Homo sapiens: one gene and its partners. The protein of the gene in region 2 interacts with the protein of the main gene of each other region in a pairwise test. Each region holds a gene or a part of one and is shown on either strand. Other genes may lie near its edges. The genes, in order: CCK, WBP1L, PIAS4, FLNA, PRPF40A, SGTA and CASP6.

Region 1 (2,930 bases), on a different chromosome or scaffold from region 2:
TGCTAGAGTGATGAAGGTCCCGATAGCCTAGGAACATTAAGCCCTCCAGTCTGTGAATCTCCTTAGCTGGGGCATAAGGGGCAGTCACTTTCACTCTTCAGAGCCTGTTTCCTCATCTGTAAAGAAAGGATGATAACTTCTGTGCCACAGAGCCATGGAGTGATCAAATGTATGCAAAACCATGGCCAGTTACTGCCTGTAACTTGTTTAAAGGCCAAGAGAACCCCAAGGAAACCCTGATGGGAGTAGGATTGGTAAATAAGATCGGGGATCAGGGTGGCCAGGGCTGGGCTCTGGAGTTGCCCACAGATGGCCCTTTCACTGTCCACCTGGCCTGTAGCAAAGTTAGCTCCAAGTCTGAGCTGCATTTCCCAAGCCCTTTCTGGGGACATCTACTACAAGGATTTGTCCCAGTGTAGCATCTATCAGGCTTCCCTCCTTGCATGTTCTGAGGACCAAATGGAGCCCTTTGCCCTCAGTAGACGCAGGGAACGACAGGGCAGAATGAAATCACTTTAATAGCATAACAACATTTTCAGACCAGGAGTCACAGATGAAGAAAACATTTTGTCTTCCATTTGCACAATTCTGGTGAGGTGTGTGGTTGCACTGGACAATCTTACAGACACATTTTTCACATTGAGAACTTAATAAATAGATACATACAATGTCAAACTCCACAGACAATGAGTTATGAGTGTGATTGTTTTCTTATTCTGCCTCCTCTGGGTTGGGAGGTTGCTTCCCGTTGGGCTGATGGCGGCTGGGTCCTCTAGGAGGGGTACTCATACTCCTCGGCACTGCGACGGCCAAAATCCATCCAGCCCATGTAGTCCCGGTCACTTATCCTGTGGCTGGGGTCCAGGTTCTGCAGGTTCTTAACGATGGACATTCGTCCAGAAGGAGCTACAAGGAGCAGGGAGGAAGGAAACAGGGACATTGCATCTAAAAGCATCTCTAGTTCAATTTGGGAAGGAGAGCAATGGAAAAAGCCAGACGCAATATAACAGACACCACCTTAAAGGTATCAAAGAGCTATCAAAGTAGTGGAACTGATGGACCAAAATCTGAGAGAGGAGAAGGACCAATGTCTGTGTAACTGGAGAGAGGACAATATATTTACAAGTTAGGGGTGTGCTTTGCGTTCTGCAAGTATTTAGGTGGATTCATTTTCTCTAGCCTTGCAGTCTGGGGACTTGCCTAGATTTTCCTTAGTCTCCCTACCGTTTGCTTTCTTTTGGTAGATGGGTGTTTTCCTTTTGTAGATGGCATCAGCAGAAACCAACCAAAGATTTTTCCAGTACTTAATTGTTCCTAAATTCATCCCTTAATATCCATCAACATTCCTGACTCCTGGAGAGCTCTTGTTATTAAGGTGGCACAATTATAATATCTTGATGTTGGAATGGTTAAAAAAAAATCGTTGGTGGGAGTGTAAATTAGTTCAACCATTGTGGAAGACAGTGTGGCAATCCCTCAAGGATCTAGAACCAGAAATACCATATGACCCAGCAATCCCATTACTGGGTATATACCCAAAGGATTATAAACCATTCTGCTATAAAGACACATGCACATGTACGTTTACTGCAGCACTATTCACAATAGCAAAGACTTGGAACCAATCTAAATGCCCATCAATGATAGACTGGATAAAGAAAATGTGGCACATTTACACCATGGAGTACTATGCAGCCATAAAAAGGATGCGTTCATGTCCTTTGCAGGGACATGGATGAAGCTGGAAACCATCATTCTCAGCAAACTAACACAGGAACAGAAGACCAAACACCGCATGTTCTCACTCATAAGTGGAAGTTGAACAATGAGAATACATGGACACAGGGAGGGGAACATCACACACCAGGGCCTATCGGGGGGTGGGGGTTAGGGGAGGGATAGCATTAGGGGAAATACCTAATGTAGATGACTGGTTGATGGGTGCAGCAAACCACCATGGCATGTGTATACCTATGTAACAAACCTGCATGTTCTGCACATGTACCCCAGAACTTAAAGTATAATAAAAAATAGATAAATAAAGCTCCTTTGCTACATAAATACTCTTTTAAAAATATGAATTTGAAAGTTATATTCAGAAAGCTTTTGTCATTTATCAGTAAGTGTTTTGAGTTGATGATCATTTTATTTTTAATGATAAATCAATATCAATTAAAAATGATATTCAGAAAAAGACTGTCGGATTAAATCTTGGCACCTCAGTAAGACTCAAAGAAGGGGGGGAGAGAGGTGATAACAAAGGTGATTTAAATCAGCAATTTTGACCAAAATGCAATAACTGAACCTGAAATTGTCCCATTGGGATGGAAGTTAAGTCTTCAGGAACAGTGTGATCCTTTTGTAGAGCTCACACTGAGTGAGCAGGGACATGAAGAGGCAGTTTATTTGGAGACATGAGACAGTCCTAGCTCAAAGTTCATAGACAGAAGCCTCCTGGGGTATGAAATCAGCAGAACACCTTCTCCTGTGCAAGCTCAGTCTTAAGAAAGGCCCTTCAGGGACTTCAATGGACAAAGCCCAGGCCAAATCAAGGGTAGAGGAGTGGAGGACCACTCAATGACTCCCACTGTGTTGGGGGCCACTGTATCCCCACCTCCTGTCATGCTGGTCTATATCCCTTCTGCATGAGGCTGCCCTTGCCAGCTCCTACCCATAGGCTGAGTAGAGTCAGACTATGGCTTATGTGTTGATAAATGAAAATGCAAAGGCAGTTACCCTGGGTAATGAAATTAAGCAAGTTTAATTAAAAACAGAAACAACACAGAACAACGTCCCCACCCTTTCTCTCCCCAACCCCAACCCTTCCCAGTTTTGGAACCAACAGTCAATTCAGCACATTTCAGGTCTTTTTGCAGATATCCTCAGCCTACGTAGAAGAAAAATAGCCCCTGCTATTTAATTGTTCATCA
Region 2 (3,500 bases):
AGTATACGCAGAACTATGCCTGATGTATGGTAAGTTCTTAGTGTGTTTATTGTTGTTGTTACAGGCTTAACCATAGATGGGCAGGGTTTCCTTTAAAATTTCCTTTCAATTTCCCTTTTAACCCCCAAAAAGTATTCCATAAAGAAACACAGGGCCCAGTGTGGTGGCTCATGCCTGTAATCCCAGCACTTTGGGAGGCTGAGGCAGGTGGATCACTTGAGGTCAGAATTTGGAGACCAGCCTGGCCAACATGGTGAAACCCCATCTCTACTAAAAATACAAAAATTAGCTGGGCATGCTGGCGCACACCTGTAATTCCAGCTATTTGGGAGGCTGAGGTGGGAGAATCGCTTGGACCTGGGAAGCGAGATCATGCCACTGCACTTCAGCCTGGGCGAGGGAGTGAGACGCTGTCTCAAGAAAGAAAAGGAAAAAAGAAACACAGGTTAGGAACAAGTCCAAAGTCTGCTTTTAGGTTCTGTTCTTGGCACTGGAAATTCAATCAACTCCTATTTACTGAGCTCTTGCTAACAATGGGTATCTTAAGACAAACTAAAAACAAAACAAAAAAAAACGGCAGGTAAAAAACGAAGCTTGGGCAACATGGCGAAACCTTATCTCTACAAAAAAATACAAAAATTAGATGGGCATGGTGGCACATACTCATAGTCCCAGCTACTTAAGTGGCTGAGGCAGGAGGATCCCTTGAGTCCAGGAGGTTAAGGCTGCAGTGACCAAAGATCATACCACTACACTCCAGCCTGGGTGATAGAGTGAAACCTTGTCTCACACACACAAAAAGAGGAAGGAAGGAAGGAAGGAAGGAAGGAAGGAGAAGGTGGAAGGAGGAGGGGGAAGGGGGAAAGGGAAAGGCTGGGGGAAGGGTAGGGGAGGGTGGAGGAAGGGGAGGGGAGGGTGGGGGGAAGGGTGGGAAGGTGGGGGAGGGGTGGCAGGGTGGGGGAAGGGTGGGGGTGGGGGGAAGGGTAGGGAAGGGTGGGAGGGAGGGGGGAGGAAAAGTGGGGAGGGAGGGGAGAGGAAGAGTGGAGAGGGAGGGGAGAGAGGAGGAGGGAGATGGGAGGGAGGGAAAGGAAAGAGAGAGAGAAAGAAAAAAAGAGAGAGAATAAAAAATGAAAAACGAGTTGGGCAGCACTGACAGGATTTGCTAATAGCCTGTTTTGTGTCACTTCAGGGAAATTCCACTGTCCAGAAACATACCCCTCTCCCTCCTAAAGCCCAAACCAGGGGAAACTGATGCCTGGGTGAAATTCTCCCAAATGATCTCAAGGGCAGAAATTCCCAACTTTGATCTCTCCCTGGAAAATGTAGCTTGCTGAGTGGAGAGAGCCCCAGGATGAGAACAGGGAGGAGTGGCTTTGGGGTTTGGGCCAATGCACATCCTATCCCCTCCCCGCTGGATTACCTTCTGAAGGTAAGAATTCTGTCTCTCCAGTTTCCAGCCCAGAGGAGGTCACAGCATCAACTAGGAACTTGTTACAATTGCACATTCTCAGGTTTTTAAATTCTCAGTTTTGAATCAAAAGCTCTGGGAGTAGGGCCCAGAAGTGTGTGTTTTCGGTAGCCCTTCAGGAAATTCTGATGCCTGCTAAAGTTCAAGAGCACTGGAATAAGGGTTTGCTGAATGAATAACTGATGGAATGATGAATTAAAGTACAGGTGCCGTAAAAATGCATGGAGATAATACTAACAACGATCAGGTCCTTAATAGCCTCAACTACTGCCCCTATTAAACAGGATCTGCCGTTCTCAACACATGCAGGCCCAATAACTGGTTTGGGTTATGAAACATTGAAAAGACATGTGGGAAAGGTTGCCGGCCAGAGCTCAGGTCTATGTGTGCTTGTGTGTCTGTGTAAACCGTGTGTGTGTGTAAGTATGTGTGTGAGAATTGAGAATTTTCCTCAGCACACAGGAAAATGCAGTTTAGTAGAGGTAAAGGGTGGGTAGAAATGGCATTTTTTCCCGGAGGCCTTTCCTGTAGGCAACTATAGTTAAGGAGTTGCCCTGTCTGATGAAAACTCTGCCAAAGGATTTCCTGGCTGAGGAATTTTCTTTCCAAAGGAAGGTGGGAAGGAAATCAGCCCAAAGCCCGTGACTTTCACACTTCAGGCAAAGTTGAGAGGCAGTTAGAGGGAACAGGGTTGAAAGCAACAAAAAGTGCCATTTTGATGAGAACTTCAGGTGTTTGTTCCAACATCAACCTCCCTCCCATACACACCAGGCAGAAGCCATGACCTCAATAAAGAGGGAGATCGGAGGACTTCCTGAGAAGGGCGTTTTGCTTTTATGTCTCCCATGCCTCCAGAACGTGGAAAACACATGCCAGCTCATTTAACGGGGCACCTTTTCTCTCCGTCTAGACACTGCTCTCTGCTGGGCCTCCTTTCCTAAACGCCCGTAGCTAGAGAGACACTTAGCCGTTCATGCAGCTCTTTCTCTGACTTTCTTTAAGCCCTTGGGGTGAGGCACCTGCTTTCCCAGACTACCTCCTTGCCCTCTGGGTCTCCCTGTCCCCACCACTCCACCCCCCTGCCCTGGCTTTGGTGACCCAATTCAGGTGGCTCCTGAGTCGGCTCTGCCAAAAGCCCAGGAGGCTCTGTCAATCTGAGACGGGGCCATGAGCAACTTCGTTCCTTTTCACAACTGATGCCGCCTGGCCAGGACCCAGAAAAACAAACTACAGCTCTGTGGCTTTTTGGCAGCCCAGCTTCAACTTTTGTTTTAACAAAGGGTGGGAAGGAGAATTTGAACCCTGTGGTTATCTGCATTTTAAAACATTTAAACAGAGTCTGTCTACCTGCTTGGCACTGTGTGTCCTCTAGTAAGTTTCTCAGCCCCACCCCTTCTAAAATAGCAACAATGACTGTGCCCTCCTTCACTGCTGCTTATATATCTGCAGGTCTGGTGGGGACATCTTGAGCCTTGTGCTCTCCTGCACTGGACTGCTCCTGGAATTCCTCAGAAAGGCAGATGAGCCCGTCCTCAGTCCTCAAAAGGGAAAAGCGAGGGTGAGGGAGAGGTCTTGTTTGGAGGAACCACTCCTGTTGGCTACAAATACAACTGCATTTCAGATGGACAGACCTCCCAGCCAAGAGTCTAATTTCCTTTCTGGACCAAACAATAGTCCTTCTGGCTGCTTTCTTGCCATATCACTGACACAGGGGTTGATGGGGGGGATGAGAAAGGGGAAAGGCGCAGATAGGATGGTGGGGGCAAGGTCATGGTTTGACAAACCCGAAGTCTGTTTCCAAATGGAGGCAGTGATGAGGGCTTAGAATCATCTGGGGAAACCGCCTGCAGTCTCCTTTCTCAAGAGACAATTGTAAGAACTACGGCAATGTCAGTCACCTGGGGCCTCGCTGTCCTAAGCACCACCCCCCCAACACCCTCTCATTCTTTGTCCAGCATCCTACACTGTCTCGTCTGAGTTCCAGGAAGGTCAGAGTACAAAGAGTGTCAGTTGAAGCAACCTTGGGTCACTC
Region 3 (3,500 bases), on a different chromosome or scaffold from region 2:
TGCACTCCAGCACGGGCGACAGTCAGACTCCATCTCAAAAAAAAAAAAAAAAAAAGCTGATCGGATGGGACCATTCCCCCTCCAGCTGGCCCATGTGCTGGCCCCCTCCCCAGGCTGTCCCCTCCCCGGCACATACAAGTTCTCTAACTCCCGGACCCACCCTGTCCAGCTAAGAGCTACCAGCACTGATTCCCCAACCCAGGTCCCCCAGATCAAGAGTAGAGGCAGCACAGTCAGGTATGAGGGACACAGGGGGCACTGTCCTGGAGGGGCGGGGAACAGGTGCCCCTGGCTAGGCACAGGGGTGATGCCGACCACTCTACCCATCAGTGAAAACATTCACAGGCTGCCATGGGAGGGGGACCAGTGGGCAGGAAGCAGAGCAGGAGGCTGCAGCCAGCGGGCAGGTTGGGGAGCTGGGCTGGGCAGGGCAGGGGGCCACAGGGGATGGGAGAAGGACTAGCGGGACATGGGGGTGGCTGCTGGCAGCCCCCCATCTGGTAGCAGTGGGCCCATCCCTCCTCTTCAACCTGAAGGCCAAGACCTGGGGCAGAGCTGGCGGAGTCCCCCTGTTCCCCAACCACAGGTATGGGAAGTGCCAGCGGGCTGAGTGGGTCAGACTACCCCACATGTGGGACAGTGACACAGGACGCTCCGTGCCCATCCAGGCCCCCAGTGTGCAGACGGACAGATGGTGGGCCTGGGCGGGCAGCAGGCCTGGCTGTGGAAGGCAGACGGCCACTTGCCTCCTGCACTTCAGTTTCCTCACTGACCCCAAAAATCATACCAGAACCTCAGGGGCGCTGAAGCCCTCGGGGCAAGCAGGGTAGCCCCCAGCCTTCCCCGGGCCCACCATTCTCGGGTTCCAGCCTCTGCCGCCCGCGCCCAGGCTACTGCGTCCCTCCTCCTGGGCGCACCATGTTCTGGCCACAATGAACTCCATTCAGCCCCATGAATGAGCCCTCTCTGGCCATCGGCCTCTGCCCTCACTGCCCTCTGCCTGGAATACGCTCCCCTGCCCCCTCCTCTCTGCCTGGCTTCTTGAGAGTCACCCTCGGGTCTGGACTGAAACGCTGCTGCCTCCAGGAGGCCTTCCTGACTGCTACCTCCTCACAAATGTAGAGTAAATGGCTCCTGCTACTGACAGCTGCCCCTGAAAGCCCTCCGTGTGCCATGAGACTTATCACCTGGCACTTCTGTGCTGCACCTGAGCAGGGACCACGCTACCTTGCTGTGGCCTGGGCAATGCTGGCCCAAGGGCTTCAGAGGCTGAAGGGCACAGGTGCCTACACACAGCACAGCACATGCCAGACCGGCGGCTCTTGGCTGGTACCAGGGCTATCTGCCTCTGGGGGCATCTGGAGTCGTGGTGACAGGGGCTCCACTCTGCACAGCAGGCGGGTGGGCAGGCAGATTCCTCGGGGTGCCCGCTGCGGGCCAAGACCCTGGAGGAGCAGCTCTGTGCCCGGCCAGCATGTATCCTTCCTTCTGCCCCACATTTCCTGACAGCCTCTCTTCCCAAGTACCCTGACAGGAGGGTCAGGCTCCCTAGCCGGACTCCCCAGGTGGCGCAGGCTGGAAAGGGGTGGCGCCGGCTTCCTTGCCGACAGGCAGGACAGGGTTCCCAGCCTGCAGAGGTCCAGGCCAGAGCCTCTGCTCAGGAGCAGGAGCCAGTCGGCTCGGGAGGAGGGAAGGCAGGCCGCTGTGCGACCTTGGGCCGTTCTCCGCACTGTTCTGGGTGCCAGCCCCGTCCCCACACACGGCACCTCCCACTGGAGCCGATCACCTACAGCCTGAGGCCCCTGCAGCCTGCTCTGTGGCTCTGTCACCCCCTCCCCCAGCCCAGCATTCCGCACCGCGTGATTTATGGCTCCTGTCCGCCTGGCGCGGTCTCCATCCTGGAGCCGGCCGGCGGCTATTCCGGGGAAACAGACCAGAGCGGTGGGCCTCACGCTGGACGGTGGGTCACAGCCAGAGGAGGGAGTGAGGGAGAAGCCGGTGGAACTGGGTCCTCCGGAGGCGGCCCCCGGGCAAGGCCAGCACCACAGAGTGCACCCTGGGGAGGGACACAGCCCAGGGTCAGGGCGGACAGATGGCATCTCAGGTCCTAAAACCATGGGGACCACTGCTTCGGGGCCAGGGGCTATGCTCCAGGAAACTTCTGAGGACCGAGGTGGCCCCCAGGGAGTCCCCCAAGAGCACGGAATCCAGGAAAGGAGGTTCACCTGGCGGCCTGAGATGGAGAGAGAGCCAGTGGGAGAGAGAGGCAGGGTGGGGATGGCCTCTTTGTTCTGAGCCGCCAGCACAGGCACACTGGTGTAGACAGGGGAGCAGGCTCTCCCGGAGATCAGGTGACCGGGGTCCCTGGTGGCTCAGGGCACAGCGATGTATTGTGGGACGGAGCTACTGGTCCCCGTGCAGGAAGGAAGCTGGTCAGCCCCGTCCCCCGCCCTGGACCAAGCCTGCCCTGCCGCTCCCAGGAAAGCCCAGCCTCCCTGTGATGCAGGTCCTTCCCAAGGCCCAACCTTCAGAGACAGCCAGCTCTGCCCAAGAACCTGGCAGGGGGAACAGCTTCCCTCATGAGAGAGCAAAGGCTGGGAAAGTCAGTCCGATGGAACTCAGGCCAAGACCCTGAGTCCCCCAGGACAGGTGCCACTGGGCCAACCTGCTCCCCAGGAGGCTGCTGCTAGACACCTCCTGCAAGAGAAAAAAGGTGGAGGCGGAGCCTCACTTGGAAGGCGGAGCCTCAGGCTGGAGGGAGGAGCCTCGGCTGCCGCAGGAACCACCGACAGCACCTTCCTCCCTCCTCCACTTCCTCCATCCTCACCTGGAAGCACAGCCCCTCCAGCCTAACCTCACTAAGTCCCAGGGCTGCAGATGGGAGGGGAAAAGCAGCCAGTTCCCCTTCCCCCTACCCCCATCAACGCTGCCTCCCTGGGCAGGGGAGCGGGGGCCAGCTGGCACCCAATGGACTGAAGCGTGCCAGAGAAGGGCCCTCAGGCCACAGCAGGGGCCAGGCAGGTTGCTGGGTCAGCAGGGTGGGAGGGGGCATGCACAGGGTTCTGAACCTCGTGGCCTTGGTCCTGTTCCCTGCTGCGTGCCCACGCCTGGTGCCCATCACGCACCCACCCAGCAGGCGCTCCGATGTTTACTGTGCGAAGGAAAGAGTGGGGGCAGGGGAGGGGAGGCAGGAAGAAGAGACGGAGAGACCTCCAGGCACACAGAGGACTTGGTGAAATCTGAGCGCCTCAAGGCACAGGTCCGCAAAGGCCCAGGACGTTCCGCTCCCTATCTGGGAGTCCCAGAGGCTGCACACTCTCTCTGCCCTGGGGGCTGGGGCTGCGGAGGCCTCCCTGGCCCTGAGCTCAGGGCTATGGCTGAGGCAGAGACTGGGCTCAATGCCCACCTGCAGCCTGAATGGCCACGGCTGCTGGGGAGGCACCAGGGGCCTGTCCACACTGCTGTGGGCTATGAGGTCCTGACACACAGTTCCTGCTCAG
Region 4 (3,500 bases), on a different chromosome or scaffold from region 2:
CCCGCACAGCCGTGTGCCCAGCGTGGCCACTCTTCTACTCACAGACAGCAAGGCCATCGTGGACGGGAACCTGAAGCTGATCCTGGGCCTCATCTGGACCCTGATCCTGCACTACTCCATCTCCATGCCCATGTGGGACGAGGAGGAGGATGAGGAGGCCAAGAAGCAGACCCCCAAGCAGAGGCTCCTGGGCTGGATCCAGAACAAGCTGCCGCAGCTGCCCATCACCAACTTCAGCCGGGACTGGCAGAGCGGCCGGGCCCTGGGCGCCCTGGTGGACAGCTGTGCCCCGGGTGAGGGGGCGCAGAGGCAGGAGAGACTGGGCTGGGGTCACCCATGGGTGGCCCTTGAGGGGGTTCTGCGGCCCCCAGACTCACAGCCTCCCTTGCGCCACAGGCCTGTGTCCTGACTGGGACTCTTGGGACGCCAGCAAGCCCGTTACCAATGCGCGAGAGGCCATGCAGCAGGCGGATGACTGGCTGGGCATCCCCCAGGTACACCCGCCCGGCCTGGCTACAGCTGTAGGGGACCGGATCGGCAGTTGGGAGAGACTCGGAGGCCCGATGGCTCCTGTTTTCTGCCTGTGACAGGTGATCACCCCCGAGGAGATTGTGGACCCCAACGTGGACGAGCACTCTGTCATGACCTACCTGTCCCAGTTCCCCAAGGCCAAGCTGAAGCCAGGGGCTCCCTTGCGGCCCAAACTGAACCCGAAGAAAGCCCGTGCCTACGGGCCAGGTGAGGGAGCCCCACCAGGGGTGCACCCGTGTGCCAACGTCTTCCCCATAAGACAGTGTCCCATCTAAACGTGGCGGTCCCCAGGGGTCTTGGGTTACATGGCGGCTAGGTGATCAAGCCACCCAAGAGTCAGACAAGAGTGGGTTTTTGGGACTAGTGAAAACGACAAGAGAATGCTAATAGGTTCCTCCAGTCACAGAAGCCTGCTGCGTGGGGTCCTCGGGGAGGTAGCATCCAGCGGTCTTTATTATAAATGGAGATGAACCAGGTCTCAGTAACAGGGACCTAAAACCCAGTCAAGGCTCACACAGGAACAAGGGCCCAGTGCGGTGAGAATGAATGTTCCAGAAAACAGGCTGGGCCTGTCCCAGCAGCGAGAGCACAGCTGGGTCCCGAGGCCAGGCTCTGTGCCACAGCTCACACTGAATGAACTTGCCCAGTTTGGAATGTGCCTGACTTAGGGGCCAGCAGGGAGGGCTGAAGGGTGGAGGGGTGAGGCTGTGGCCTTAACAGCTGGCCCGTGGTTGGCTCGCCTTCCCCTGCCAGGCATCGAGCCCACAGGCAACATGGTGAAGAAGCGGGCAGAGTTCACTGTGGAGACCAGAAGTGCTGGCCAGGGAGAGGTGCTGGTGTACGTGGAGGACCCGGCCGGACACCAGGAGGAGGTAGGGCCAGCTGCTGGCAGCAGAGGCCCCGCAGCGCTCCCTTTCAGTGGGGCTGCTCTTAGCAAAGGCTCACAGGCTCCTTCCCACTGCAGGCAAAAGTGACCGCCAATAACGACAAGAACCGCACCTTCTCCGTCTGGTACGTCCCCGAGGTGACGGGGACTCATAAGGTGAGCCCTTGGCCAGGGGGGAGGCTTGTGACCTCAGGCAGTGGCTGGAGGCCCCCAGCCCTACCCTCACGGCCCACCCTTCTGGGGACAGGTTACTGTGCTCTTTGCTGGCCAGCACATCGCCAAGAGCCCCTTCGAGGTGTACGTGGATAAGTCACAGGGTGACGCCAGCAAAGTGACAGCCCAAGGTCCCGGCCTGGAGCCCAGTGGCAACATCGCCAACAAGACCACCTACTTTGAGATCTTTACGGCAGGTGAGGGGAGGCTGCCAAGGCCCAGCTGGTCTGTGGGGAGAGCCGCACTGGGGCCTGGGAGCTGAGCAGGTGCCTCGTGGCAGGAGCTGGCACGGGCGAGGTCGAGGTTGTGATCCAGGACCCCATGGGACAGAAGGGCACGGTAGAGCCTCAGCTGGAGGCCCGGGGCGACAGCACATACCGCTGCAGCTACCAGCCCACCATGGAGGGCGTCCACACCGTGCACGTCACGTTTGCCGGCGTGCCCATCCCTCGCAGCCCCTACACTGTCACTGTTGGCCAAGGTAGGCCCGGCCCTGACTGCCCTCTGCTGTGGCACTGCAGTCTGGGCCTCCCACAGGAGGGGGACCCCCTGGGCCAGTCCCGCTGCAGCCCGCCCCGGGGCCCCTACTCTTTGAGCTTCTACTGTCTGGGCACATGCTGTTTTTCCTCCCCTGCTGGGGCCCTTCCTCCTCTCCTCTCCTCGCCCCTCTCCATCTCTCTCCTCACGCTTTCACCTTCGGAAGAGCTCGCTCCAGCTGTCTAGAAACCTGCTGCTCTCTGCTCTGCCCACAGGGTCAACGGTACTTGGATCTGTCTTCTTCTTGGAAGGGGGAGGGTGGGGGGCTCTGGGCTGGTGTGGAGCAGGTGGGAGGAGGCCTGCCATGTCCTGGCCCAGGCCACAGTTCCTGGGGTCACAGTCCCTTCCAGTTCTGTCTTGCATGTCCCCCTCCAGCCAAGCTCTGAGGGACCCACCAATCCTGACAGCCCGGCCCTGTGGGAGGCAAGGGAGGGGTCGCCCAGCCGAGCTGCTGGTGCTCAGCTGGCCCCTCTGCCTGCAGCCTGTAACCCGAGTGCCTGCCGGGCGGTTGGCCGGGGCCTCCAGCCCAAGGGTGTGCGGGTGAAGGAGACAGCTGACTTCAAGGTGTACACAAAGGGCGCTGGCAGTGGGGAGCTGAAGGTCACCGTGAAGGGCCCCAGTAAGTTGGCCTGGAGCCAGGCCAGGATGGGTGGCGGCAGCCCCCGGGTTCACTGCTGGGCAGGCCTGAGGCCCTCCTTGTCTTGGCAGAGGGAGAGGAGCGCGTGAAGCAGAAGGACCTGGGGGATGGCGTGTATGGCTTCGAGTATTACCCCATGGTCCCTGGAACCTATATCGTCACCATCACGTGGGGTGGTCAGAACATCGGGCGCAGGTGAGGCCCCCAGGCATCCCTCTCCCAGCTCTGCACACTCTGCCTCTTCTCTTCCTTCTGCCTCCCCACCTGATGATGAGGGGCCACATGGGCTCTTCCTGCCTGGCCGCCACAGTGGGGCCCACGCTGGCTCATGTGGTGATCCTCGGTGTTCCCTGTGTGGCTCTCGCATTTGCAGTCCCTTCGAAGTGAAGGTGGGCACCGAGTGTGGCAATCAGAAGGTACGGGCCTGGGGCCCTGGGCTGGAGGGCGGCGTCGTTGGCAAGTCAGCAGACTTTGTGGTGGAGGCTATCGGGGACGACGTGGGCACGCTGGGTAAGTTGGAGGCTGCAGCATGGGCACCTGGGGACAGACGATGGCAAGGACGGCCCACCCTGAGGCTCCAGGGCACTGAGGGGACTGGTGGCTGTTGTCAGGCTTCTCGGTGGAAGGGCCATCGCAGGCTAAGATCGAATGTGACGACAAGGGCGACGGCTCCTGTGATGTGCGCTACTGGCCGCA
Region 5 (3,500 bases), on a different chromosome or scaffold from region 2:
TTTTTCTACAAAGCTGTATTTTTTTAACTGATTTATAGGAGGTTGAAACCCAAAACACCAATAACCAAAGAAGAAACAATACACCTGTCTTAACTGAAAATACTGATAGTTTGTTAATCATGAATTTTTGCACTGATCTGATGTAAAATATTGCATCAAAATATGATGTATCTTGCTTACTAAGGTTTTTGGCAATCTTTTAGATTTGTGCCCCAACTCCCTAGCCTTGGCTCTACTTGTTAAAATTTCACTGAACTATTTTTCAAGTTTGCTGGCATAACCCTCCAAAATTCGGCCTGAAAACTGATCAACTGTCTTAACGGTGATATTACGATTCTCAAAAAAATTTATTTAAACTATTAATGGCCACTAACTAAACTGGCAATTACTTTTATTTAATGCAATCTGGTACTGATTTTCAGAAGACAAGTTACTAAACTTACTCAGCTACAGTTTCTTGCTTAGATGTTTCTTCTCCAGTATTACTGGATACTTCCACACTTTGATCCTGAATAGCAGGGGTACTAGTAAGTTGTGCTTGTTCCTCAGTTGAAATAGTTACTGTATTCTCATTATCTACAACAGTAGCAACAATGGAAGTAACTTCAGGCTCAGGAACAACTGGAACAGTTCCACTGACAGTATTAGAAGCAGAAGTGGAAGCATTAGCATTGGCTGCAGCTGCTGCTGCTGCTGCCGCTGCTGCTGCTGCAACAACAGCAGCTGCTGCTTCGGCAGCAGCCATGGTGCTCATTGTGGTCGGAATTTCTGTTGTAGGGACTGGGGCTGTTGATGTTGTGGTGCACTCTTCTTGCTTACTATACATTAAAAAAAGAGAACACTGGTCATTTCATTATTGTAATCAGAAAGCTAAATAAAGGTAGCTTTAAAATGGTCATAAAATCAAATAATAAGAAAAATAATTGAAGGAAAAAACGGCAAGAAATGCCAAGCCCATTAAAAAAGATTTTAAAACCACAGAATGTAACTGTACTACTTTAATTCCGTTAACATTCATGGTAATGTATTACAGGCACTCAAAAGTTCAGTAAGCGTTCACATTTATAAAATACCCAATCTATCAGACTGTATTTACACCACGAAAAATGACCTGTATTAGAAAGTTCTCTAAGAACTTTAAATTTTCTCCAGTTTGCCCATTTAGAGGAAACCCTATATAAAGGAAGAGATACACAGATATATTTCGTCCATTCCCTAATCAACTCAAACGGAATTTGGGACTCTTCTGTAACACAGTCTTCTTAATTTGTTAAGGGATACAGTCCAAATTCTAATAATTACTGTATAGCAAAACATCAAATTGAGTAAATATCCCCCTCCCTAATTTTTCCTCAACAAAATGCTACAAGGACATCAAAATATCAAGCCTAACATGTTAATTATTTGTATTATGAAAATTGAGAAAACACAAGGATATCATAGGAGAGACCAAATTTGTAAATAAAAATTGATGTCCAAAATTGCTTACCTGCTTTCTTCAGCTTTGATCATTGCTATTAAAGAGAGAAAAAAAGTCATCTACTAGTTTTAAAATATAATCACTGAAAACAAACTTTAAAAGAAGATAAAGTATCATACAATAGGATTTCATTTACCATCCTAAAAAATAAAAAATCACTTTTACAGAACAAATTCTTGCTCCGAAAGTCTAGTATAGCAAATAAAGAATACAACAAACTTAAATAACAGTAATTACTAGGAAAGCTTATTCCATGCTGCTGCTTTCCCAAAGGCTGCTGCAACAACTCTATGAAAGTATCTGCATAATTCTGGATGAAAACTGTATTTTCTTCAGGGATGAGACTAGTTTGATATATTTTTAAGATACTAAATTCAAAATGGGATCAAATTTATTATAAAATTCCAGCACATATATACTAGCATTGACAAGTAGATAGATAGTTACGCACACCAACTATTTGTAGTAGGGTTATATCAGAAATGAGCTTGATAATTCATAAATGATCAACTGGGAATCTACCTATCTACAATATTATTATTAGCCAATGCTAGTATAGGTAACTTAAACTGAGCTTTAAAGATCTGCACAATTTCATTTTTCATTCCAGTACATTTTCCTTTGGATGTAACAAAAATACCTTTTATTTAACATTACTAGGGAATGAGGTTCTCCACATTAAGTAATAATACAAGCCTAACTCTTTATAAAAAAAATTTTTAAAACTTATCACCCTTTAAAGAAAAACATTTCTGAAAATCTGTTTAGGATGGCTGAAAAAACATACTTACAAAGTTATCATTAATAATATAAATTAACATTTTTCTGATACAATGATGATCTATCTATCTAATGAGGTGGCACAAGGAAAAGGTAAAGGGGCTTAATATGACAGTCTTTTAGGAAATTTTTATTCTCTTTTCCTGCCAGATGTCATTCCACATCACTATCTACTTTATTAGCCCCATTCTCCTACAATCTGCTGCTTCTAGTTTTGTATAATTTATGACACTAGATTCTATTAGAAGTGAGTATAAAAACTAGATTTTCAATCCTTACTTATTATCTCTATTTTAAGTCTTAGGTTTTATATTTAGTATTAAGTATTTCTAGATTTTTAAGGGTTATTCTGATTAGTTCCAATGTTGAAAAATTTTCCCTTTATAAGTAAGGCATGATACTTGGTTTACCTTAATTCTTCCATAAAGAACATATCAAGGCTATTTTGCAACACTGTGCTAAACAAAACTAGCATTAAATATATAGTCTGACAATATACTAACAAAATATAAATGGATACAGATTCAAGGTTCTCCACTATCTATTACCATGAAATGAGTTAAAACACATGTTCTATGTATGCACCACTCATAGTAGGACTTGGAAATTTTGTATATGAACTCCTTGTTCAATTGAATGATAAACGATCTTTTTTCTAAAAACCAAAGTACGACTTTAAAAGCTACAAGCTCATTTATAATATAACCCTTTAATGAAAAGAATTCTTAGAGATTTTTCACTGCAGATTTATCCAATTATGGTTAGTGAATATTAGTGACATACTCTAATAAAAATGTTAAGTATGACAGAAAATGAATTATCAAAGCAGCTCACCATGCAGGTTTGATTTTGTAATAAGACTTCCAGCAACAATGGTATTCTGGTATCCTAGTTTCAGTGGAATCAAATCAAATAAAAATCTATTTAAAATCTACAGAACTGAGATCTAAAGCAACAAGAAAATAAGAGCCCAAAAAACTGTTATACGCCATTTTAAATGTTCTAATCATTTAATTAAAAAAAAAAATAAGGCCTTTGTTTGAACAATCCTATTCTGGAGGAATTGTTTCAAAGTGAATGGCATATATATGTAAAACATATACATTGAAAACTACTTTTCCCCATTTTACCTTCAAGATCCTCAAGTTCTTTAGGTTTGGCCCAGCGAGATTCTTTTGTTTGAGAATTATAATAGTAAGGCTTTCCAGAATCTGATTTGTATTCCTTCCAGGGGCATTTA
Region 6 (2,529 bases), on a different chromosome or scaffold from region 2:
GGGCCCCTGGGGAAGGAAACCAAGCCAGCCACGGGCCCCTGGAACCCATGGGGGACACTGAGTGTATTTTTAAACAACTGTAAGTGCAACACCTGCTCACAGTGAGAAAAGGACAAAAAATCCCTCACAAAATGCAGGCAGAACGCTCGGGCGCAGTCAAAGGCAGGTACCCGGCTTGTCCTTTCCACCACTCGATGACCTCGCCCCCACCCCCGAGGTGGCAGCCCCGACACTGCAGAAACAAAGAGCTTCTGCAGGCGGCCTTAGGCAGGGGGGACCCCAGACACCAGCCCTTCCAGGGAGCTGTGGCTCTCCCCTAATCTCCACCCAGCGCCGATCCACAGATGGGAAAGGAGTGGGGAGCAGGACTTGGTGGCCACCTGGAAAGGGGCCCAATGCCCAGAGATGCCCCCACCTGCCTGGGCGGTTCAGGGTGATCTTCTGAGCTGGATGCACCCAGGACTCGCTGTCCAGTGTCCAGACAGGCTCCACAGCCCCCGGGCGTCACTCCTGCTGGCTGCCCTCACTGCCAGGCACTCACGTGGTGTCACTCCTGCTGGCCACCCCCCAGCCCCCGGCCCCATGCACTCACGCAGCGTCACTCCTGCTGGTCGTCGTTGCTGGCGCTGGGCGTCCGACTCCGGATCTGGCTCCTGAGCTGCTCTATCAACTCTGGGTTCTGCTGCTGCATCTGCTGGGCAAACTGCTGGCCCCTGCGGGGAAGGGCACATGGGGCTCAGCCAGGGCCAGGAGGCTGCCTGCTGCCTCCGTCCATCCCCAGCTGACCCCTCGGGCCCTCCACCCCAAAGACAGGCCTGACCCCTCGCTGGAGGACGCTGGGCCCTTCGGAGCAGGGGACGCAGCACTTTCGCTCTCCTCCTTCCCTTCCGCCTGCGAGCCCTGCCCGCCGCCCACGTCCTCCGTCCTCTTGGAAGCAGTTCCACTCACGCCTGGATGAGGCTGGCCAGGTCGTTCTGCGAGGGGCTGGTGCCGGGAGTTCCCAAGGGGTTGTTGCCACCCGAAATCATGCCGGACATGCTGCAGGAGAGAGCGCGTGACTCGCAGCCGGGACAGCCTGACCGCCACCCCCACTGCAGGCCCTCGCAGTGGCCCGGGAGAGAATCCCTCTCAGCCCTTCACCTTCCCCTGCAGGAGAGGATTCTCTCTCACCACCTGGTGGGCCTCCAGGGCCCAAACCCACCCTGTGACTTTCACCTGCTTTCCCAGAACACCCCTCTTTCTTTGGCCTAAAGAGCGTAGTTCTCAGCCAGGGGGTGATCCTGCCCCCAGAGGACCCCTGCAATGGCAGCGGACATTTGCAACAGCCATGATTGGGTTACGCCAAGACAGGGGCAGGGGGTGCTCCTGGCATGGAGTGGATGGAGGCTAGAGACAGTGCTCAGCACCCTGCAGTGCCCAGGACGGCCCTGCTCCAGAAACTGGTCCAGCTCAAATGGCCACGGTGCTGTGGCTGGGAAACCATGCTTTAAGATTTGACCGTGGGCCAGCCGCGGTGGCTCACACCTGTCATCCCTGCACTTTGGGAGGCTGAGGCGGGTGGATCACCTGAGGTCAGGAGTTCAAGACCAGCCTGGCCAACATGGTGAAACCCCATCTCTACTAAAAATGCAAAAATCAGCCGGGCATGGTGGTGGATGCCTGTAATTCCAGCTACTTGGGAAGACCCACTTGATCCCGGGAGGCAGAGGTTGCAGTGAGCCAAGATTCTGCCACTGCACTCCAGCCTGGGTGACAGAGCAAGATTCTGTCTCAAAAAAAAAAAAAGGAGAAAGAAAAAAAGATTTCACCATGAAAACAGGTGAGCAGCTCCCCAGTGCGCACAGCGCTTACTGGGGAGTGACCCTATGAGCCAGCGAGTGCACTCAGAAGTTTATATCCAAGAGAAACGAAAACAGGATTCACACAGACGATTGCACACCCGTGCTCAAGCAGCACCGTTCACAACAGACAAAAGGTAGAAACAGCCCAAATGTCCATGGATAGATGTGTGGATCAGCACAGCGTGGTCCCTCCACACTGGAATATTACTCAGCCATGAAAAGGAGCGAGGCCCTGACCCAGGCCCCAGCACACATGCACCTTGAGGACGTCACGCTCAGTGAGAGACGCCAGACACCAAAGTTCACGCAGTGTGTGATCCCATTTCTACGAAATGTCCAGGACAGGCCCATCCACAGAGACAGGAAGGGGATGCGTGGTTGTCAGGGGATAGGAGAGGGGTTGGGGAGTGACAGCTGAGGGGGAAGGGGCTTCTTTCGGAGGTGATGAAGATGGGTTGGTGCTCAATGGTGGTGACAGTTGCATGACAGTGTGATGGTGGTGACAGTTGCATGACAGTGTGATAGTGGTGACAGTTGCATGACAGTGTGAAAGTCCTTAATGCCATTAAGTTGCACACTTTAAAGTGGTTAGTTTTATGTTAAGTGAATTTACCCACAATAAAAGGAAATTTAACCACAACAAGACCCGAAGAAACCCGGTTGTCACTTACAGCTGCTGAATCTGGGG
Region 7 (2,659 bases), on a different chromosome or scaffold from region 2:
GGTGAAACTTACAGGACCTTAGCCAAGAGAGGCAATTATATGTTTGTTTTAAACACCACACACCTTCTGCAACAGAGTAACACATGAGGAAGTCAGCTCCAGCAGGCAGCGTGTAAACGGAGGCTGCATCCACCTCAGTTATGTTGGTGTCCAACTTCTCTGTCTGATTATCTACTACATCCAAAGGAATGACTGGCACATCGTGCTGGTTTCCCCGACATGCCTACAAGACAAGGAGGAAAAACCCACCTCTTTGCCTACTGTTTCCTTCCCAGTGCTTAATGTGTGCAGTGAATGTGTAAGCCAGTACCCCTTCATTACAACAGAAACCACATTCTGAGCAGTTCAGAAGCAATACATTCAGGTTTGGAGGGCACAAAAGCCAACAAAGTTGTTTCCTTACTTAGGCTTTCTTTTAGTTAATGTTTTAAGAAAAAATTGGCATCCCCAAGTATACATCAAATTATGTTGGTAGAAGGGTATACTGTAGAGGAAAAAGCTTGTGGTTTTAAAATTTCTTACAGATTAACCACACCCAGGGCACACGGTGTTACCTTCCCTTTTGAAAGCTATAGTATTGACCTAAGTGTTTCTGTTTAGGCAGGCAGTGTATTTCCAGATTGACTTTTGCTTGCCTGGCTGCTGCTATAAATTGTTAGGAGTTAAAATGACATCCAGCCTGACCTGAGGAGATACCTACTAATGCACCATCTTCCTTGTGTGCCCATTAAAAAGTGAGGTCTCAAATTTTTACCCACTAATTCTGACTCACTCAGAATTTACATTAAATTTAGACTCATAATTAACATTAAATTCTGACTCACTCAGAGGCTAACATTAAACTCTTCTCATAAGTGACTTTTACAAGCTGAATTGTGTTCCCCAAAAATTCATATGTTGAAGTCCTAGCCCCAATACCTCAACTCTGACTGTATTGGAAGACAGGGCCTTTAGAGGTGATTAAGGAAAATGAGGTCATACGGGTGAAACCAAATCCAACATGACTAGTGTCTTCATAAGAAGAAATTGGGACACAGACATGCACAGAAGAAAGACCATATGAAGGCACAGGGACAAGATGGCCACCTACAAGCCAAAAAGGGAGGCCTCAGAAGAAACCAATCCTCCCCACACGTTCATCTGAGACTTCCAGCTCCAGGACTGTGACGATAAATTCCTGCTGTTTAAACCACACAGTCTGTGGTACTTTGTTATGGTCACCCTATACACGAATACAGCCAGCCAATAAGATTCTGTTGTAGCATTATAAATGCATCAATCAGTTCTGAAATGGTTAAAGAATTATGAGCATCAAAAGAAAGTCCTGAATGATTTCAAATCATAAAATAAATAGAAAATCCCTACTATCCCGTTTTTATAGGCAGATTTTAATCTTCGTATCAGCAGGCTTATTTTCAGGCCTTTTTTCTACTGTCCTTCCTAAATATAACAGAACACCTTTAACCTAATGACATCACCTGCCCAGTCAACTGCAATAAGAGTAAGAGCGAGCCTTTACTGAGGGCGTGCTGTATGCCAGGCACTGTTCTAAGTGGTTTGCATTCATTAAATCAGTCAGGTGATTTTGCCCACACAACCACCCCATGAGGCAGGTGCTCTTTTTACCAAGAATCTAAGGCATAGAGAGAGAAAGTAACTTGGAAAACGATTTCATTTGTGGCTTTCTTCCCACAGTAGCTCATTAGTTATTTCCAATTCTCTTGTGTTTGACAGTGTTGGCCACTCCCCTTTTCACAAAACAATCATGTCATTATTTGTTTCTTGTTTCTCTCCTGGTGTCCATCCTCCTCAGTATCTTCCCTCTTCAGCCCATTCCTCATGGGTGCCCCTCGGTTTTGTTTTATGCTCCTTTTTCAGGCTGTATTCAACACGAGTAAACTCATCTAATCCCATGGCTTCCACGACCACCTCCTGATTTATTTCTCCAGCCGAGGCCACCTGTCTTAGGTTCTACACCTGTATGACCAATTCCATGTCCCACAGACATTCCAATGCAGTTGTCCAAACCAGAAACGAGGCAGTCATTCTTCACTTACAGCCACTTCCTCACCCCAAAACAAGGCTTTATGGTAGGATGCGAAATGCAGTTTCATGTTTGATACGGTTTGAACGTCTGTCCCCTCCAAATCTCATGTTAAAATGTGGTTCCCAGTGTGGGAGGTGAAGCCTGGTGGAAGGTGACTGGATCATCGGGGAGGGTCTCTCATGAATGGTTTAGCATCATCCTCTTGGTGTAAGTGAGCTCCCACTCAGTTCACATGAAATCTGGTTACTTAAGAGAGTCTGGGACCTCTCCCTTGGCACTCTCTTGCTCCCACTCCCAACAAGTCATATGCTGGCTCTCTGTCACCTTCCACCATAATTGTAAGCTTCCTAAGGCCTCACCAGAAGCAGATGCCAGCACCATGCTTCCTGTACAGCCTGCAGAACTGTAGGCCAATCAAATCTCTCTTCCTTATAAATTACCCAGTCTCAGGTCTTTATAGCAATGCAAGAATAGACTAACATAATGTTATTTCATGTCCTCCATGCTATTCATGGAAATACAGAATTGTGACACTGGCATGTCAGGTTTCTCTTTTGTAGTTCAAAATCTTTGGCCGGGCACAGTGGCTCACGCCTGTAATCCCAACACTCT

The links.
Region 1: the proteins of WBP1L (region 2) and CCK interact in binary tests that used the Homo sapiens proteins (3 or more experiments, as listed by UniProt).
Region 3: the proteins of WBP1L (region 2) and PIAS4 interact in binary tests that used the Homo sapiens proteins (3 or more experiments, as listed by UniProt).
Region 4: the proteins of WBP1L (region 2) and FLNA interact in binary tests that used the Homo sapiens proteins (3 or more experiments, as listed by UniProt).
Region 5: the proteins of WBP1L (region 2) and PRPF40A interact in binary tests that used the Homo sapiens proteins (3 or more experiments, as listed by UniProt).
Region 6: the proteins of WBP1L (region 2) and SGTA interact in binary tests that used the Homo sapiens proteins (3 or more experiments, as listed by UniProt).
Region 7: the proteins of WBP1L (region 2) and CASP6 interact in binary tests that used the Homo sapiens proteins (3 or more experiments, as listed by UniProt).

Annotation. Positions count from the first base shown.
Region 1 is NC_000003.12:42,257,326-42,260,255, forward strand, and holds the end of CCK (cholecystokinin preproprotein), read right to left. Parts: intron 907-2,930; coding exon 773-906; 3' UTR 501-772; downstream 1-500. UniProt on the Homo sapiens protein: This peptide hormone induces gall bladder contraction and the release of pancreatic enzymes in the gut. Its function in the brain is not clear.
Region 2 is NC_000010.11:102,799,448-102,802,947, reverse strand, and holds part of WBP1L (WW domain binding protein 1-like isoform 1 precursor), read right to left. Parts: intron 1-3,500.
Region 3 is NC_000019.10:4,014,236-4,017,735, reverse strand, and holds part of PIAS4 (E3 SUMO-protein ligase PIAS4), read right to left. Parts: intron 1-3,500.
Region 4 is NC_000023.11:154,364,635-154,368,134, reverse strand, and holds part of FLNA (filamin-A), read left to right. Parts: intron 1-44; coding exon 45-293; intron 294-396; coding exon 397-494; intron 495-590; coding exon 591-738; intron 739-1,284; coding exon 1,285-1,403; intron 1,404-1,495; coding exon 1,496-1,573; intron 1,574-1,664; coding exon 1,665-1,827; intron 1,828-1,910; coding exon 1,911-2,111; intron 2,112-2,648; coding exon 2,649-2,786; intron 2,787-2,875; coding exon 2,876-2,999; intron 3,000-3,177; coding exon 3,178-3,314; intron 3,315-3,415; coding exon 3,416-3,500. UniProt on the Homo sapiens protein: Promotes orthogonal branching of actin filaments and links actin filaments to membrane glycoproteins. Anchors various transmembrane proteins to the actin cytoskeleton and serves as a scaffold for a wide range of cytoplasmic signaling proteins.
Region 5 is NC_000002.12:152,675,962-152,679,461, forward strand, and holds part of PRPF40A (pre-mRNA-processing factor 40 homolog A), read right to left. Parts: coding exon 3,391-3,500; intron 3,149-3,390; coding exon 3,095-3,148; intron 1,515-3,094; coding exon 1,490-1,514; intron 819-1,489; coding exon 444-818; intron 1-443.
Region 6 is NC_000019.10:2,756,745-2,759,273, forward strand, and holds part of SGTA (small glutamine-rich tetratricopeptide repeat-containing protein alpha), read right to left. Parts: coding exon 2,513-2,529; intron 1,039-2,512; coding exon 949-1,038; intron 714-948; coding exon 599-713; 3' UTR 593-598; intron 1-592. UniProt on the Homo sapiens protein: Co-chaperone that binds misfolded and hydrophobic patches-containing client proteins in the cytosol. Mediates their targeting to the endoplasmic reticulum but also regulates their sorting to the proteasome when targeting fails.
Region 7 is NC_000004.12:109,690,787-109,693,445, forward strand, and holds part of CASP6 (caspase-6 isoform alpha precursor), read right to left. Parts: intron 224-2,659; coding exon 64-223; intron 1-63.